Linked DNA regions of Homo sapiens: region 2 is linked to region 1. The links come from fine-mapping of genetic effects on gene expression. Tissue or cell type: whole blood. Region 1 holds a variant in brackets; the other region holds the start of a gene. All regions are shown on one strand. Distances are from middle to middle.

Region 1 (8,118 bases):
GAGGCTCTGGTACTCCACCCCACAGTGCAGTTCCAATGGAGTGGGACCTCAAAGCCAGGTCCCCATCACGGGGCATCCCACCTATGCAATGCGCTCACTTGTAAGTCCTCAGAGTACCTGCAGGTGTCTGTTGGACAAAAGCACACCCGAGTATCTCACCAGGATAACCATAATTTGCAGAAACAGTGCAGCTAGAGCCTCTAGGCAGAAAGTTGAGGTTTCTTCACTGTTGAATTTTCAAGATTCTCTCTCTCCTGCATATCCAGTCAATAACATAATTCTGCAGAGCAATACTTAGTTCCTTTCCTTCAACTTTGATATTGCAGCTCCTTCCAATTTGTGTATCTTTAGGAACTGCACCCAAGGAAAGGGCTGATTTGCTGGGGTCACTCTCTCAACAATGCTTCCTCAACTGTGCCAAAAATAGCTTTGAAATTTCCACTTGAATTCTTAGAAAGGGCCCTTTTCTCTCCATTTCCATCTGAGGAAAAGAGGAGGTAGCTTATTTTCACAGTTCCATGGTTTCTAATAATGGCACAATATTCTTTTGAGTGAACTGCCTTAATTCACTCAACCATCCCCCTATTATTAGACATTGGGTAATGTTCAATTTTTCCTTTTTCTTTTTTTTTCGAGACAGAGTCTCACTGTGTCGCCCAGTGCAATGGCACCATCTCAGCTCAGTGCAACCTCCACCTCCTGGGTTCAAGCAATTCTCCTGCCTTAGACTCCCGAGTAGCTGGGATTACAAGTGCCCGCCACCAAGCCTGGCTAATTTTTGTATTTTTAGTAGAGACAGGGTTTCATCATGTTGGCCAGGCTGGTCTCAAACTCCTGACCTCAAATGACCCACCTGCCACGGCCTCCCAGAGTGCTGCGATTACAGGCGTGAGCCACCATGTCCTGCCAAATGTTTAATTTTTAACCCTTTAAAAATAACACTATGATGAACATTTTTTAGTATAAATCTTCTCCTATGTTTAGCTTATTCCCAGAAATAGATTTACCAAGGCAATGGGGAGGACTTTTAGCACATATTGTCTTGGATCACTAAAAAAAAAAAAAAAAAAAAAATCTGAAAAACAAAATAATCCAAAGAGGCCAACAAGAGTTCCTATTGAGAAGAAAATAAAAAAGAAATAGGTGGAGTGTTCAGTGTCTCAAAGAAAATAATAGCAGGCAAGTCAAATAGCAGGAAAGTAAGTCATCTCCTATTCTGCTGCGCTGATGTGAGATCTTCTATGAGCAAAATAGCTCAGGCAGATAAGTGTGTGGCTTTCCTTTCTTCATGGCAAATGCTTCCGTTTCTTTTGACAAATACATCGAATGGAATACCATAAGTCAGATAGTTTTGATCTCAGCCTTGTTTTTCAAAACACAAGCGGTTAACATGCCCTTTTACCTCTGAGGGATTGGAATGATCACCTCCTCCTGACTGTTTTCTACGGCCACCTCTAGCCCACTGCAGGCTTCCTTAGAGGGACAAGTGTGGCAGCCTCTTTGCTGGGCCCCCTGCCTCCAGCCTTGCTTCAGTTGAATCTATTGACCATTGTACACCCAAACTCATTTTCTTCAATGTCTATTTCAGTATTTCACATCTCTGAATGCAGATGTATCATAGAGCTACTTAAGTCCCTTTTCCAGGAGTTTTCAGTAGCCTGGAGGCAGATGTGGAGCGAGTAGGAGGCTGATGTCTTCGTTGGGATCCCCCAAAAGCAGACCCTGACACAGGCTTGGGGAGCAGTCGTTTCTTTGGAAGGAGATCCAAATGAGCACTACGAGAGAGTGGAGAAGGGACAGGGAGAGGAGAAAAGGCAGTAAAGTGTGTGTTTCTGAGCAGGTCACTGTGGGCCACCTGGGCACAAGCCCACAGGCATCACTGAGAGGCTCTGTGGGAGACACCTCAGAGTTGTCGCACTGAGACCAGGAGGCTGCGAGTTTAGCTATCAACTCCCATCCATTATTGCTTGTGGGCTGCTCCTGTGCCACCTTCTGGCCTGTCTTACCTGTGGCCAGGTGTCCTCAGGTGGAGGGGCTGTAGGTGAGGGCAGGAACCCTCTGCAGAAGACTCTAGGGGAGGCTGCGGGTCGGCCAACTCTGACAGCTGCTCCACAGTTGGATCTGTGTGTGTGTGTGTATGTGTATTCACACACACACACATGTACATACACACATGTATATGCATATGAATTTTTTTTTTTTTTAGATGGAGTCTCTGTTGCCCAGGCTGAAGTGCAGTGGCATGATCTCGGCTCACTGCAACCTCCACCTCCCAGGTTCAAGCGATTCTCCTGCCTCAGCCTCCTGAGTGTCTGGGATTGCAGGCACCCGCCACCACTCCCGGCTAATTTTTGTATTTTTAGTAGAGACAGGGTTTCACCATGTTGGCCAGGCTGGTCCCGAACTCCTGACCTCAAGTGATCTGCCTGCCTTGGCCTCCCAAACTGCTGGGATTACAGGCGTGAGCCACCGTGCCTGGACTTATGCATATGATTTTTAAAACAAAAATAAGATCTTACTATGCTTACTGATATTTTTGACTCAACTGTCTTGGACAACTTTTCACATCAACAGAGATATTCTATTCCCACATTATCCATGGTTGAATAGTATTCTATTGGGAGGATGCATCCCCATCAGACATTTGTTTGTTCGTTTGTTTTAGAAACTGGGTCTCACCCTGTTTCCCAGGCTGGAGTGCAGTGACGTGATCGTAGCTCACAGCATCCTTGAATCCCTGGGCTTGAGCGATCCTCCTGCCTCAGCCTCCTGAGTAGCTGGCACTATAGGCACAAGCCACCGCACCTGACCCCCTATCAGACATTTGTTACTTCTAAATGTGGTTGACATAAACAAAGGTGGACAAGAACAATCTTCCTGAAACATGGCTGGCCACAGCACTTGGTATCTCCCTTTTGCTTGAAACCCACTGATAGCTCTCCATTACCCACAGGGCCAAGCCTAAATTCCAAACCTTGGCATTCCAAACCTTGGCCTGTCCCTGGACCTCTGCTCTCTGCCCAGCTCCTCTTCTACAGTCAGACAGTTTGACCCACCGGGTCATCTCAGGTCCTGTCCATTCATACACCTGGGTCTTGGCTTGGGCTCTGTCCCCAGCCTGATAGCGCCCGTCTTCCCCTGCTGCTTGGCCCCATCAAGGACTGACTTCCTTGGAACTCCATCCCTCAGCGGTCAAGTCCTCTCTTTTTCATTATCCCCGGGGCGTAGTCTTATCTTTCTGCTCTCTTTCCATGGATACATTTTCACTTCCCAACAATGCTGGGACAAGTGACCATACTGCTTATGCCTCCAGGGTTCAGATGGCACATTGCACACGCAGACACTTCCTTGGTCAAGGTTTGTTGATGATGAGCAAAATGGCTTGTTCTCTTTCTACCTGGAATGAGAATGGAGATGGAGAGAGGCATCTCTGTGTTCTACTCACTGGGGGGCTGTGACCCCAGTGCCTGGATCTCAGCTTGTTAATGGCTGTTGAAGCCATAAGACCCATGGGGACAGTAAAGTAATGCCCACAAGCCTGCTCCCCTAGAGACAGGTACTACGGAGCAAAGGAGGAGGTGGGAATGGTCTTTCTGGTTCTTACTCCAGGACTGGCAGGAAGGGGAGCTGACATGGAGAGTGGGGGAAGGGCTACTCGGGGTGCTAAGCCCAGCTTCCTGTCTGGATTTTCCTTGACTGCTGCCGGGGGCCTATCTTAGGATGGTCACAGCTGCAGAAATAGATCTCCCCCTTCACCTGTTCTTAAGCAAGGAAGACCTTGCTAACTTCCTGTCAAAAGAACGCGTGCTTTGGTAACTTTTCCAGTACGGGAGACAGTACTGGGGACGCGGGTGCTGAAGTCACCACGATTTT[C/T]CTCGTCTGAGGAGCAGTGGCTCACCTTGGCCAGGAAACAGGGCAAATAGCCGCAAGGAGAGAGGCGAGAAGCCGGCCACGTGTTTCCAGCCAGAGTCCTCAGCCTCTTCCGTGAATTCGGGCGGTGTTTCCTTCCTTGGTCTGCTCCAGAAACCACTCTTTCCTGGCAGGAAGCCCCTCTCTCTGTCAGAGTGACAGGGAACAGACCCTTTGTCCTCCTCACTCGTCTGCCCTAGCCCCCAGCCTGCTCCTGCAAAAGTCTCTGTTTCTCCTGAACTTTTCAGCTGAGTCAATCGGGCTCTGGGACCCCGAAACCAAGCCTCCCCAGTCACTCGCTTATTCACTCAACAAACACACCCCCCTTCCCCGCACTAACCCAGGCCCAGTTCTGGGAACCAGCAAGGGGAGGGGAGGGGAGCCCCGAGCAGCGCGGCGGGAGGTGGACATGCCGGGGAGGAGACTGGCCTCCTGGTGGCGGGGGAGGGCTCCTGGGGACCCCAAGTCCGCGGAGGAGGAGACAGGAGGGAGCAGGGAGATGGAAGACCCAGGAGCACGGGCGGGCTCCGCGCATGCGTGGGAAGAGACCTTGGCGTCCTCGGCGTCGCCAAGGCAACCGGCGCCAGCCATGGCCTCTGGGGCGGGCGGAAGCTGGGGTCGCTCCCCACCGCAGAGCGCAGTCCCGACGGTGAGGGCTGAGCCCGGGAGCAGATCCTGCCTTAGCTTGGGAGACGGCAGAGTGGGGAGCTGTCCCTGGAGGGGCCAGATCCTGGAGGGGTGGGGGACGAGGAGAGACAGCCCCAAACCGAGAGGAAGAGGCGTGGCAGGGAGCAGGGAGGCCGCGGGGCGGGGAGGAGAGAACCTGGCCCCTGCGGGGTTAGGGAGGCCACTGGCCGGGGGGGTTGGGGCTCGCGACGTGTCCCCATCCATTCCCCCCACCCCACCTGGCTGACTCCGCGCACACCCCCAGCCCTGGGTCACCTTCCTGCAGCCCCTCTCGTGGGCCGTCCCACCTGCGCCCCCGCAGCCAGGCCGCGTGAAGGAAGGTGAGACTCCCGGGTCCCCCCACCCCACCCCCACCATCACCACCACTCACCCTCTTCTGCCTCGCACATCCTCTGGGAGTCCCCGCAGCACAACCCGCCAACCCATTCTTCACCCCCGGGACAGGGGTGTCAGGGGGAGGGGGACTCGGAGGCCCGGCGTGGGCTTGCTGAACCCCGCTTCCTAGACCTGCTGGAACTGATGATGCTGCAGAACGCGCAGATGCACCAGCTGCTGCTGAGTCGCCTGGTGGCTGGAGCGCTGCAGCCCCGGCCTGCCTCGCCCTGCCCTCAGGTGCGTGTGGGTGGGCCGCCGGGGTCGCTCACCTGTGGGTCCAGGGATGCGGATCCACCTGGGGTTCCTGTTCAGGGGGGAAAAGAACTGGGAGACAGAGGAGCAGGAAGCCAGCCCGTCTCTCTGGCTGGGGCTGTTTGGCATCTGTCATGTTTCAGCCTCCATGAAAGGTTGGGGCGGGGAAGAGACCCCCCAAAGTCCAGACCACCGAGGTCTTGTTTTCAAGGAGGTTTCCCTGTAGTGCCTCCCCCACTGGACTTAAGGCTCCAGGAAGGTAGGCACCCTGGTAACCCTGCCCCATGCATCATGAGCGTCTGGCCTGGTGCCTGACACCGTGTAGGGGCTCAGCTGATATTTGTTGAACGAGTGAATGAATAAATGAATGGTTAGGGATACAAAGCCAGGTTGGCTGTGATGGCACATGGAGAGGTACAAAGCACAAGTGCACATAGGGTTGGGGGATGGGGACAGGCTCCTTGGAGGAGCAGAGGATCTTAGAACCAGCCCTTGAAAGCCAGGTAGGATTTTGACCCTTGGAGGAGGCGAAGGGTGTGTCCCCCATCCAGGCTGGCAGGGGCAGAGTCAGGAGACAGAATGGGGGAAACCGTGTGCGGCAGTGTGTGTGTGCAAGAGTGTGTGTGTGTATGTGTGTGCAAGTGGGTGTCTGTGTGCATGCGTGTGTGTGTGCAAGGCTGTGTACATGCATATGTGTGTGCAAGTGTGTGTTCACGTGCGTGTGCAAGGGTGTGCGTGCACGTGTGTGCGAGCGGGTTGTGAAGGCAAGTGTGTGCGTGCAAGCAAGTGTGTGCGTGCAAGCAAGTGTGTGCAAGTGGGGGTGTGTGCAAGCGTGTGTGTGCATGCATGTGCATATAGCTCTAAGGCTGAGCCTTACTCAGCCAATAGTGGGCATCCTGAGGTCAGGAGAAGCAGGGACTGGGTGGAGAGAGAATGTTGTTCAGCTCGGAGGAGGCGGAGAGGGGTTCAAGGAATCCAGACAGAAGGAGACCCTGAGGAGCTACTGCCACCCCTCACCCCTGGGTCCTCAGTGATGACACATAGGTGGGTCCAGGGGCCGGGGGTGAGGCCGGGGACAGCTCAGTGGACTCCTGGCCCCAGCTCTGGGGGTCACACCTGGAATCAACTGGGTGGCCAAGTTGCTCAACGTCCTTGAGCTACAGGAGTAAATGTCTCCACAATTTGTTGTCCGCATGTAGTAAACGCTCAATAAACACAACCCATTCTTTTTTTCTTTTCTTTTCTTTTTCTTTTTTTTGAGACGGAGTCTCTCTCTGTCACCTAGGCTGGAGTATAGTGATGCAATCTCGGCACACTGCAACTTCCACCTCCTGGGTTCAAACAACTCTCCTGCCCCAGCCTCCCGAGTAGCTGGGACCACAGGCGCCTGCCACCACACCCGGCTACTTTTTTGTGTTTTTAGTAGAGACGGGGTTTCACTATGTTAGCCAGGATGGTCTCGATCTCCTGACCTTGTGATCCGTCCGCCTCAGCCTCCCAAAGTGCCGGGATTACAGGCATGAGCCACCGCGCCCCGCCTACACAAGCCATTCTTTTTTTTTTTTTCCTTTTTTTTCTTTTGAGATGGAGTCTCGCTCTGCCGCCCAGGCTGGAGTGCAGTAGCTCGATCTCTGCTCACTGCAAGCTCCGCCTCCCGGGTTCACGCCATTCTCCTGCCTCAGCCTCCTGAGTAGCTGGGACTACAGGCGCCCACCACCATGCCCAGCTAATTTTTTTTTTTTTTTTTTTGGTATTTTTAGTAGAGACGGGGTTTCACCGTGTTAGCCAGGATGGTCTCAATCTCCTGACCTTGTGATCCGCCCGCCTCGGCCTCCCACAGTGCTGGGATTACAGGCGTGAGCCACCATGCCTGGCCACAAGCCATTCTTACAAAGCCTATCTGGAGGAAATAACTTAGGGGAATGGAGGAGTGGCGGTGGGGAGAGCCTGATGGTAGATTCTCATTTCCCCTCCCTGTTTTGCACAATCCCCAGGTCTACCTGGAGGTTCCACAGGAAGAGCCTGAGGAGGAGGAGGAGGAGATGGACGTGCGGGAGAAAGGGCCTTTGGTGTTTCACCACCACTACTTGCCCTATTTGATGCCCTCCCCGGGTGCCCTGCTGCCCTGGCCAGCCCCCTTCTTCCCCACCCCTGCTTGTCAGCCCTACTTGCAGGACGTGCCCAGGATTCAGCACTGTCCTGCCTCCAGGGAAAGGGAGGTGTAAGTGAGGCTGGGTGCTGCCAGGGTTCTGCTCTGGGCTGGAAGTTGCAGAAGAGCTGTGCAGGGGCTGGTGGTCGGTGGAGATAACTTGTGGGTGAAACTCCAGAGGCCACCCCTGGGCCTCTGATGGGGGTCTTTTTCTTTCCCCCATCTCAGGAGAGCTGTGCCCCCACCCCCACCCCCCAGTGCCACAGGGACTGTGGGTGCTGATGTACCCCCGGCTTCAGGTAGGGCTGGGGTGGTGGGCAGCGGGGCCCAGGCCTGGGAGTGAATCAGGAGGCCAGGAGGGCCCTGTGCCCTCTGGTGGGGTTTGGGGGTTTCCTAACATCACTGCTGCAGGCAACTGGCCTGTCCCCTTCCCTTTACCTCTTTGGGGTCCACTGAGACAGGAGGGAGTCAAGATGAGGTTCTTGTTTCCCCAGACTACTATGATGCCGAGAGCCTCCTATGAGGACAGACCCCGGCCCTGGGAACTGCACCAGCTTCCTGCTCTGGATACAGCCCCGGAGCCGCCTCCTGCACCTCTCTTGTCGACTCCCCGGTGCCCATGGCTGGCAGTCCTTCTCACTCCCTCAACCTCAGCCAGGCCCTCTTCTCCTGGGGAAATCAGTCCCTGCCCCACGCCAATGAGTTCCTGGACGGGCCGGATCTGTGCTGTTGTGTAAGAGCTCCCT
Region 2 (8,000 bases), 24 kb before region 1:
CGCCCAGGCTGGAGTGCAGTGGTGTGATCTCGGCTCACTGCAACTTCTGCCTCCTCGATTCAAGTGATTCTCCTGCTCAGCCTCCCAGGTAGCTGGGATTACAGGCACATGCCACCACGCCCAGCTAATTTTTGTATTTTGAGTAGAGACGGGGTTTCACCACGTTGGCCAGGCTGGTCTCAGAGTCCTGACCCCAAGTGATTCACCTGTCTCGGCCTCCCAAAGTGCTGGGATTACAGGTATGGGCCACCACACCTGGCCTCAGGTACTTTCTCATATTAGGATTTAACAATTTTCCCTCTTCCCAGAGCCTGATCTCTATCCTTTTTCTTTCTCTCCTTTACTGGGAGAGAATCTCCAGTTTCTCCACATGCTCTTTTGCAGGTCTGAATGTTCGGATTCTATTGATTTCATGCTTGTTGATGCATTACTTTGGAATTGCTCTGACCTTATTGCTCAGCAGGTGCCTGGTGTGTTCCTAATTGAGCTCTCAGAGCTTGGACTTTTCCTCATGGAGCCTTTTTGTGTCTCTCTCTTCTCTGCTCTGTCTGCTTATTTTATTGAGCACACACGTGTATATCACAAACCATGGGCCAGGGGCTGTGAGGGCCTTACAGATATTAAGGCATTTAATCCTTACAACAATCCAAGGAGTGGTACTATGAGTCTCCATATGCCACAGATAAGGAAACTGAGACATGGACAGGGCGAGGCACTTGCCCAAAGTTAAAGTTAGGAAGTGGTAAAGGTGAGAATTGAACCCAGGCAGTCAGGCTCCAGAATCTGTGCTTTTTTCTTTTGAGACAGAGTCTTGTTCTTTTTCCCAGGCTGGAGTGCAGTGGCAAAATTACAGCTCATAGCAGGCTTGATCTCCTGGGCTCAAACTATCCTCCCGCCTTAGCCTCCCAAGTAGCTGGGACTATAGGAGAGCATAACCAGGCCCAGCTAATTTGTTTTCTTTTTTTTTTTTGAGATGGAATCTCACTGTGTTGCCTAGGCTGGAGTGCAGTGGCGTGATCTCGGCTGACTGCCACCTCTGTTTCCCAGGTTCAAGTGATTCTCCTGCCTCAGCCTCCTGAGTAGATGGGACTACAGGTGCACACCACCATGCCAGGCTAATTTTTGTATTTTTAGTAGAGACAGGGTTTTGTCTTGTTGGCCAGGCTGGTCTCAAACTCCTGACCTTAGTTGATCCACTTGCCTTGGCCTCCCAAAGTGCTGGGATTATAGGCGTGAGCCACCATGCCCAGCTGAGTCTGTGCTCTTAACCAACTTGCCATGCTGCCTCTCAAACGCCCATCCTTCCATGTAGGACCCCATCTGCCCTCTGGTCACGTGGGCCCCTGTATGTCCAGGCTTTGCTGTGAGTTCTACAAAAACACCAGCCTGGGAGTGTTGTGACACTGAGTCAGGTTCCAGGCCTGCACATGGTACGGGGGTCTCTCAGCTCAGGCAGAGGGTCCCTGCACCTCCCCAGTACCTGGGATGACCGTGATGGTTTTGAGGGCCCGCAGCACCCGGAAGGTCCTCAGGGCTGAGATGTTGCCCAAGTCCACAAACTCTGTCAGGTACCTGGGTAGGGGGTGGAGGGGGGTGGGGACTGTCAGAGCCTGGGGTGGGTGGTAGGACAGAAATCAGGGCTCCTCCAGGCCTGGGATGAGGATTCCCAAGAAATTGGGGGTACCACAGGGTCTGGGGGGCAGGGCAGACACCCCCAAAGCTCCTCTGGGAGCCCAAGGGTTGGGAAGGACAGTGCAGGAGCTCTGGGGGAGTGGGGATGGCAAAGATAGCCCGGCTCACCCAGCAGGTGAGGACCCATGGGTCTGTGGGTCAGGGCTGCCTCATGTGATTATCAGGAGTCCATCAGGAGAGTGCTGAGCCAGACCCTGAGAATGGCAGCTTCTAGAATTGTGCAGCTCCCCATCTGCACAACTGACCGATGTCCCCTGCAGCCCTCAGCCCAGGCAGCTTCCCTCTTTAAGGCCTGGCCCCCTCCCCTCACCCACCCCAGCCTCAGGATGTCCTGGGGCCCCTGCTCACGCCATCATGATGACACTGAAGTCCAGCCAGTTCCAGGGGTCCCGGAGGAATGTGAAGTCGTCGACACAGAAGCCTCGGGCCAGTATCTTGATGAGGGACTCAAAGGTGTAGATCCCTGTGAAGGTGTACCTGGGGGGGAGAGGGCCGGCCGGGACAGGCATGTCACCTGGGTAGGGGTCAGTGTGGCAACGACAGACCCCCAGAAGGGAGGGACACAGAAATGAAATATGCCACTCAGGTGGCTAAGGACACTAGCGAGTGATAGCATGGCCACCCCAGGGACTCAAGGTGTGGATGAGGGTCACAATGACAGTGTGTCTCCCTGAAAGACAAGAGCAGCACCACACAGAGGTGCAAACACCTGAGATGGGCTGTGTCCCAGGGCTGGGGAGCTCAGGGAGCAGGGAGACTTACTCCACATTCTTGGACCAGGGAGGCGGGTCACTCATGGTCATGAATACGCAGTTGGTCAAGATGGTGATCATGATGAACATGCTGAACAGCGTGGGGCAGGGTCAAGGAAAGTGAGGAAGCAGCTAGGATGGGAGGTGATAGAGGGTCTCCTGGGCCACAGCACCCCATCTCGCCCATCCCTAACCCCTCCCGCCTCTCCCATCTTGGGCAGGATATGCATGGATGAGCACCTTGATGGCCCCGCGCCTGACTACGCTGAAGGGGCTCAGCAGGTAGAGAGCAGGTGTGGCGGAGAAGCGGAAGATGGCCTTGCCCTTGTTGAGTACGATGAAGGTCTAAGGTGGGAGAGAGGCTGTGAGACCCAGGGACAGACAGACAGGCAGACAGATGGATGGATGGCAGACAGACAGAGGAAGCCTTCCCAGGCCCAGACCTTCTTATTGCTGTAGTAGGGATCCAGGTCCTCCAGGGGGATGCCGATGACCTCCGGCGGGGGGTCTCCGTAGATCATGGGTAGGTTCTTGCCAGCCTCCAAGTCACTTCGTGGCTTCCGTTCGGGCTCCTCAATCTCCATCTGCTTATTCCGCTGCAGCCGGGCCTCCTCCTCCACCGCCCGCTGTTCTATGGCTGCCAGTGACTCCCGGGTGAAGGGGCGCAAGCACTCAGGGCCCAGAGGCACCAGGGTGCACAGAGATGGTCTGGCCATCCTCGCATCCTGGGCTCAGAGACCAGAAGGGTGGTGGGTGGCCTGGGGAGCTGCAGTGCGCAGCCCCGGGGTGCTGGGCGGCCGCCCCTCCCTGGGCGGGCCGTCCACTCCTCACCTCCTGCTTGCCCAGTGGCCGAGCCGGGGAGGTGGGCGTGCAGACTCTATCAGGACTGGGAGATGTGCCTGCAAGGTGCTGCTGCTGCACAGGTGCTGGGCACAGAGCATCACCCCTGGCCCCCCCACCACACTTTCCCCAGAAGTGGCAGCGGCTGCCCTCAGGACCGACGGCAAACCAACCAGATTCTTTGTGGCCTTGGGACTTGGGGTCAACACCCCAGTGCCTTCGACTGCCTCCTGGGCCCAAGCTCCGGGAACTGTGTGGCTTCAGCCTAATGGGACAGAGAGAGAACCACAGCTGGCTGTGCTCAGGCGACCTCTGGATAGGCCAGGATGAGGGGCCTGGTTGGGGGGTTAGATCAAAGTGGGACTGGCACAGGGACTTCACCCTGAGGGCCGACGTGGATCCTGATATTGGCCACCTGGAGATGTAGGTGGAGACCATGAAGGTGGCAGCCAGGCTCTGTGCAAAAAGGTTGCTGTGATTGATTAGTGATGTCTGCCAGGGGCGCAAGGAGGAAGACCGTGGTGCCTCTGCCTGTGTTTGCCATCCCTGGCCTGGAGGGAAGGGAAAAGAAAGATGGGGGTGGGTGTGGATTCCTCTTTCCTGATCTTTGGGGTACTTGGTGTTGGGCTGGGAGAGGGAAGAAGAAAGGGCCCTGGGCCCGGCAGGGGTCTCCTAGCAGTTCCCTCCCACAGCCCTGGGGGCTCTAGCCCACTGGGCAGGCAGGGTGAACTGGGAGAGGAACATTGCATCTGGAGAGCTGCAGGTGCTAACGTGGAAGAGAAGACGTACAGGGAAGGTCACAGGGACAAGGAGATGGACAACTCCAATGGTGGGGGCAGGGCTAGAGCTCCTGGGGACTGCTTTTGGCTGGTGGTCCCAGCACAAGCTGGATTGGGGGAAGGGGCATCCACAAGGAGCCTTTGATGCCTGTGAGCATTGTGTGGTCTGGGCCCCACCTGGCCCCTCTCCCCTTCTGCCCAGCCCTCCAGAGCCTATTCCTGTGGAAGGGAAGGGGGATCACTTATTGCAAATGGCCCTGGGGGAATGACCACATCAGCAGGCAGTTGCAGTGAGACCCCTGCAGACCAGCTGCAGGCAGCCACTGCCAGACCCACATGGACAGACCTGGAGCCACCCCTGCACCACAGGGACCTGGACAGACCCCTAGAGACCCCCAAAGCCACACCTGAGGGTGGACCTCTCCCAGTGGGCCTTGACCCTTGCAGCAGCGCCCCTGCCCTGGTCAGCACGGGCGCTTCTCAGGCTTGCTCAACAGGTGGGGAGGGTGGCCAGGGAGAGGCCAGAGCCACTGGGCAGAGCTGGCCACGCCCTTGTGCCTGGCTCCCAGCTGCTCCTTACAGCACCCAGGGAGTCGTGTTTCCACGGGGATGACTCTGCTTATTCCTGCCAACCCTGCCCTCAGCTGCTCACTGGCCCCTGTCGTGAGCGTGGGCGTGCATGTGCACACACTTGCACACACAGGCACATGCACGCACACCCGGCCTGGAGCCACCCCACATGCAGACCTTCCCAGTTGCATCTCACAGCTCTGTCATATACCTTGCCACCTTCCTCCCCATCACCCACTCCACGTACACCCCCACATGCTGCTTGTCACTACACAGAAGGCGCCAACCAGCCAGATGGCCTTGAAGAGACCCCAGGGCTGCTGTGCACCCACCCAGTCTGCAGTCCCTGCTGTGATGATCCTCCTGTCCTGATACTGCTCACTCTTTTCATTACACGAGCCCAAGTAGGGCCACAAAAGCCCACAGACACATAGTCTGGCTCCCAACCCCAGCACTCGAGGAAATGACTCTCACCTGAGTCACCAGAGCTCCCCAGGGGACAGATCCAGTGTTTTCTTCCCCGCTGGCCCTCCTGAGCTTCCCACACCGCACACCGCCTTTCTTCTTGGGAGCAGGACATCACCTGTGCGTCCGGCCACTCTCCCCAGCTCTGCTCTGGGACCTGCCCCTTCCCTGCCCCTGGAAGATGCTTCTTCTCTGGGGCCTGCTCTGCAGCCTGTTTTCTTTGCACAGCGTACACCTCTCCCTTCAAAATGTTCACTTCCTCCTAATTTCCTCTTCTCCTACTCCTCCATTACCCCTGAGGTCTGGCTGTTTTGTAATGTGAGGGGAGGAATGTCCTCACTGGTTCCACTTGCTGAAGCTGGCTTTGGTTGGTGGCTGCCCGAAGCATCATGGTGGTAGATCTGGCCAGTTCCACACCCTACTGATGCTCCCTCTCCAGTGTCACTGCCCTCTCCACCCTCCACCCCTCACCTGTTCTGTTCAAATAACCTCCCCGCGTGGTGACATGCTCCTGTAGTCCCAGCTACGAAGGCAGGAGGATCCCTTAAGCTCAGGAGTTCGAGGCTGCAGTGAGCCATGATGGTGCCACTGTCCTCCAGCCTGGGTGACAGAGTGAGACCCTGTCTCAAAAACCAACCAAAGAAACACCTCCCACCAGGCTCTCCCCTAGACTGCCATAAATATTTGTAAAGTCACAAATTTCACCCCCTGCTTAAATCTTCAATGGCTTTCCACTGCTTAGGAGTACGTCCTAAGCCCTACCCAGGGCTCCCAAGGCCCTCCATGATCAGATCCCTGCCTCATTGCCTACCCTTCCCGCATCCTCTGGCCATGCTACCTCCATTTTCACAAATGGGCCAAGCTGTTTTCCACCCCCCTGCCCTAACCCCCATGCCTTTGCTTGTGGTTTGCTCTCCTCCCAGAGCACCCATCTTCTTTGTCTCCCTGGAGAGCTTCCATTCATCTTTCTAGACTCAACCCACACAAGAACCACCTCCTCCAGGAAGCCCTCCCTGGGTACCCTGGCTGGGTGGAACTCTCCCCTTGTTTGTGTCACCAGCTCAATAAAAGTTTATCAAATGAATAAGTGAGTGAATCACAGGGACACTCTACCTTAGCTCTTTTCTCCTTTAAGCATACCCTGAACCTAAATCATAACCAGAAACCATATCTCCTCTGAAATCACCACTTCAAACTCTTCCTTTGCCCCTGCCACCTTCTCAGCTCCTGGCTCAGGGGCCCGGTTGCTATAATCTTTGGGCACTTTCAGTTCTTTGACCCTGCACTTTCTCCCTTTCCACCTGCTTCTGACTTCATGTCCCTCCTCATCTAGGCTTACTTAGAAGATCATCATTCTGGTCCCTCCTCCACAGCTCCCAGGGAGAGATCCCAGAAGGAGGGATCTCTCTCCTTCTATCACACAGTCCTGGGGAACCCCTAACTGCATGTCCCCAGCTCTGGTTTTCCAAAGTCAGCCCCGAGCTGGAGAAATGTGGCTGGGGAAATGGTATGACTAGGCTGAGCTCACCGTAAATTCATGGTCACATATTCTGGGTTTGTCCTCAATCCTGCCAGCCCTGTAGTGTGGATTTTTCTGGTAGGCTCACTTTTCCACTTTTTGAAAACAACTATTTCATGCCTTCTCCTCTTTCCTCAGACCTCCGCGCTCCTCCCCATGAGCCTCCCAGCTGATGGTCTTCCCTGAGGAAGGAAGAACCACTACACACACACTGTCAAATCCACAGAACCATCTCCCCATCCCACCCCGTCTTCCTCTATCCTGTTAGAATAATAATAAGAAGCAAGGGTCAGGCTTTCCTGGGGCTCAGGACCCCAGCCCCTCTTGCTTCTCAAAGACCTCTCCAGGTGCCCTCTCTCTACTGCCCATCCACCTCTCCCCATCTGTGAACAGACTCTAGTGTCCCCCACTTTAAAAACAATGGCAGTGGTGACAAAACTATTCTCCTGGCCCCACACCTCCCTGCATCTATTGCCCTATTTTTCTTTCCTCTTCACAGTAAAACTTCTTGGAAAGTGTCTACACCAGCTGTCTTGACTTCCTTACCTTTCATTCTCTCTCCAATCCATTCCAACCTGGCTTCCGTTTCCCCTTCAACTGAAACTACTTTTGTCAAGTCACTAACACCCTCCCTGCTGCCAAGTCCAGTGAACACGCTTCTGTCCTCAGCTCCCAGAGCCTCTCAGAAGCATGCAGCCCAGTTGGCCACAGCCCCTTTCTGGAAGCACCTGATTCTCACAGCCTCCATGGAAGCTGCTTGCTGTTTCCCTTCCACATCCCTGGCTGCTCCGTATCACTTTCCTCTGCTTGTCCTGATTTCTGTCCCCAATCTCTAATGTTTTTCAGGGTTCGAGCTGGTTCAGGGTGGCATCATTCCTATGACCATAAATAATGTCATGGGGCCAGGCACGGTGGCTCACGCCTGTAATCCCAGTGCTTTGGAAGGCCAAAGTGGGAGGATCGTTTGAGCCTAGGAATTGGAGACCAGTCTGGGCAACATAGTGAGACCCTGTCTCCACAAAAAACAAAATAATTAGCTGGGTGCGGTGGTGTGTGCCTATAGTCCCAGCTATTCGGGAGGCTGAGGCAGGAGGATCACTTGAACCCACGGAAGTGGAGTCTGCAGTGAGCTGTGATTGCACTACTGCACTACAGCCTCGGCGATAGAGCAAGACCGTGTCTCTAAAAATCAATAAATACAATAAAATAATAAATTAATTATAAAATAATAAGTTCATGAATAAAATAATAGTAATGTCATGGGAATGTGATAAACGTTTCCCTTGACGTCCAGGCTGGTATATTCAACTGCCCCCAGACGGCTCCACCGGGATGGCTCACACCCTCCCAACTGCAATCAGACGTTTGCATCTTCCACTGTTC

The links. PIP is the estimated chance that this variant, and not a neighbour inherited with it, causes the effect.
Region 2: it holds the start of SCN4A, and the variant in region 1 is fine-mapped to the expression of SCN4A in whole blood (TOPMed, PIP 0.97).

What each region holds. Positions count from the first base shown.
Region 1 is chr17:63,993,867-64,001,984 of GRCh38, forward strand. PRR29 (proline rich 29) reads left to right here and starts at 4,485. Exons shown (of 6, transcript NM_001164257.2): 1 at 4,485-4,558; 2 at 4,841-4,916; 3 at 5,102-5,208; 4 at 7,218-7,444; 5 at 7,601-7,671; 6 at 7,867-8,118. The coding sequence starts at 4,499. The coding sequence ends at 7,895. It overlaps PRR29-AS1 (PRR29 antisense RNA 1), which reads right to left and starts at 6,033. Exons shown (of 3, transcript NR_126169.1): 1 at 4,459-6,033; 2 at 3,899-4,056; 3 at 2,205-3,397. RefSeq lists a silencer at 4,368-4,417 and an enhancer at 4,671-5,648. The variant C/T (reference allele first, on the strand shown) is at 3,874.
Region 2 is chr17:63,969,682-63,977,681 of GRCh38, forward strand. SCN4A (sodium voltage-gated channel alpha subunit 4) reads right to left here and starts at 3,237. Exons shown (of 24, transcript NM_000334.4): 1 at 2,888-3,237; 2 at 2,671-2,789; 3 at 2,455-2,544; 4 at 2,041-2,169; 5 at 1,481-1,572. The coding sequence starts at 3,160.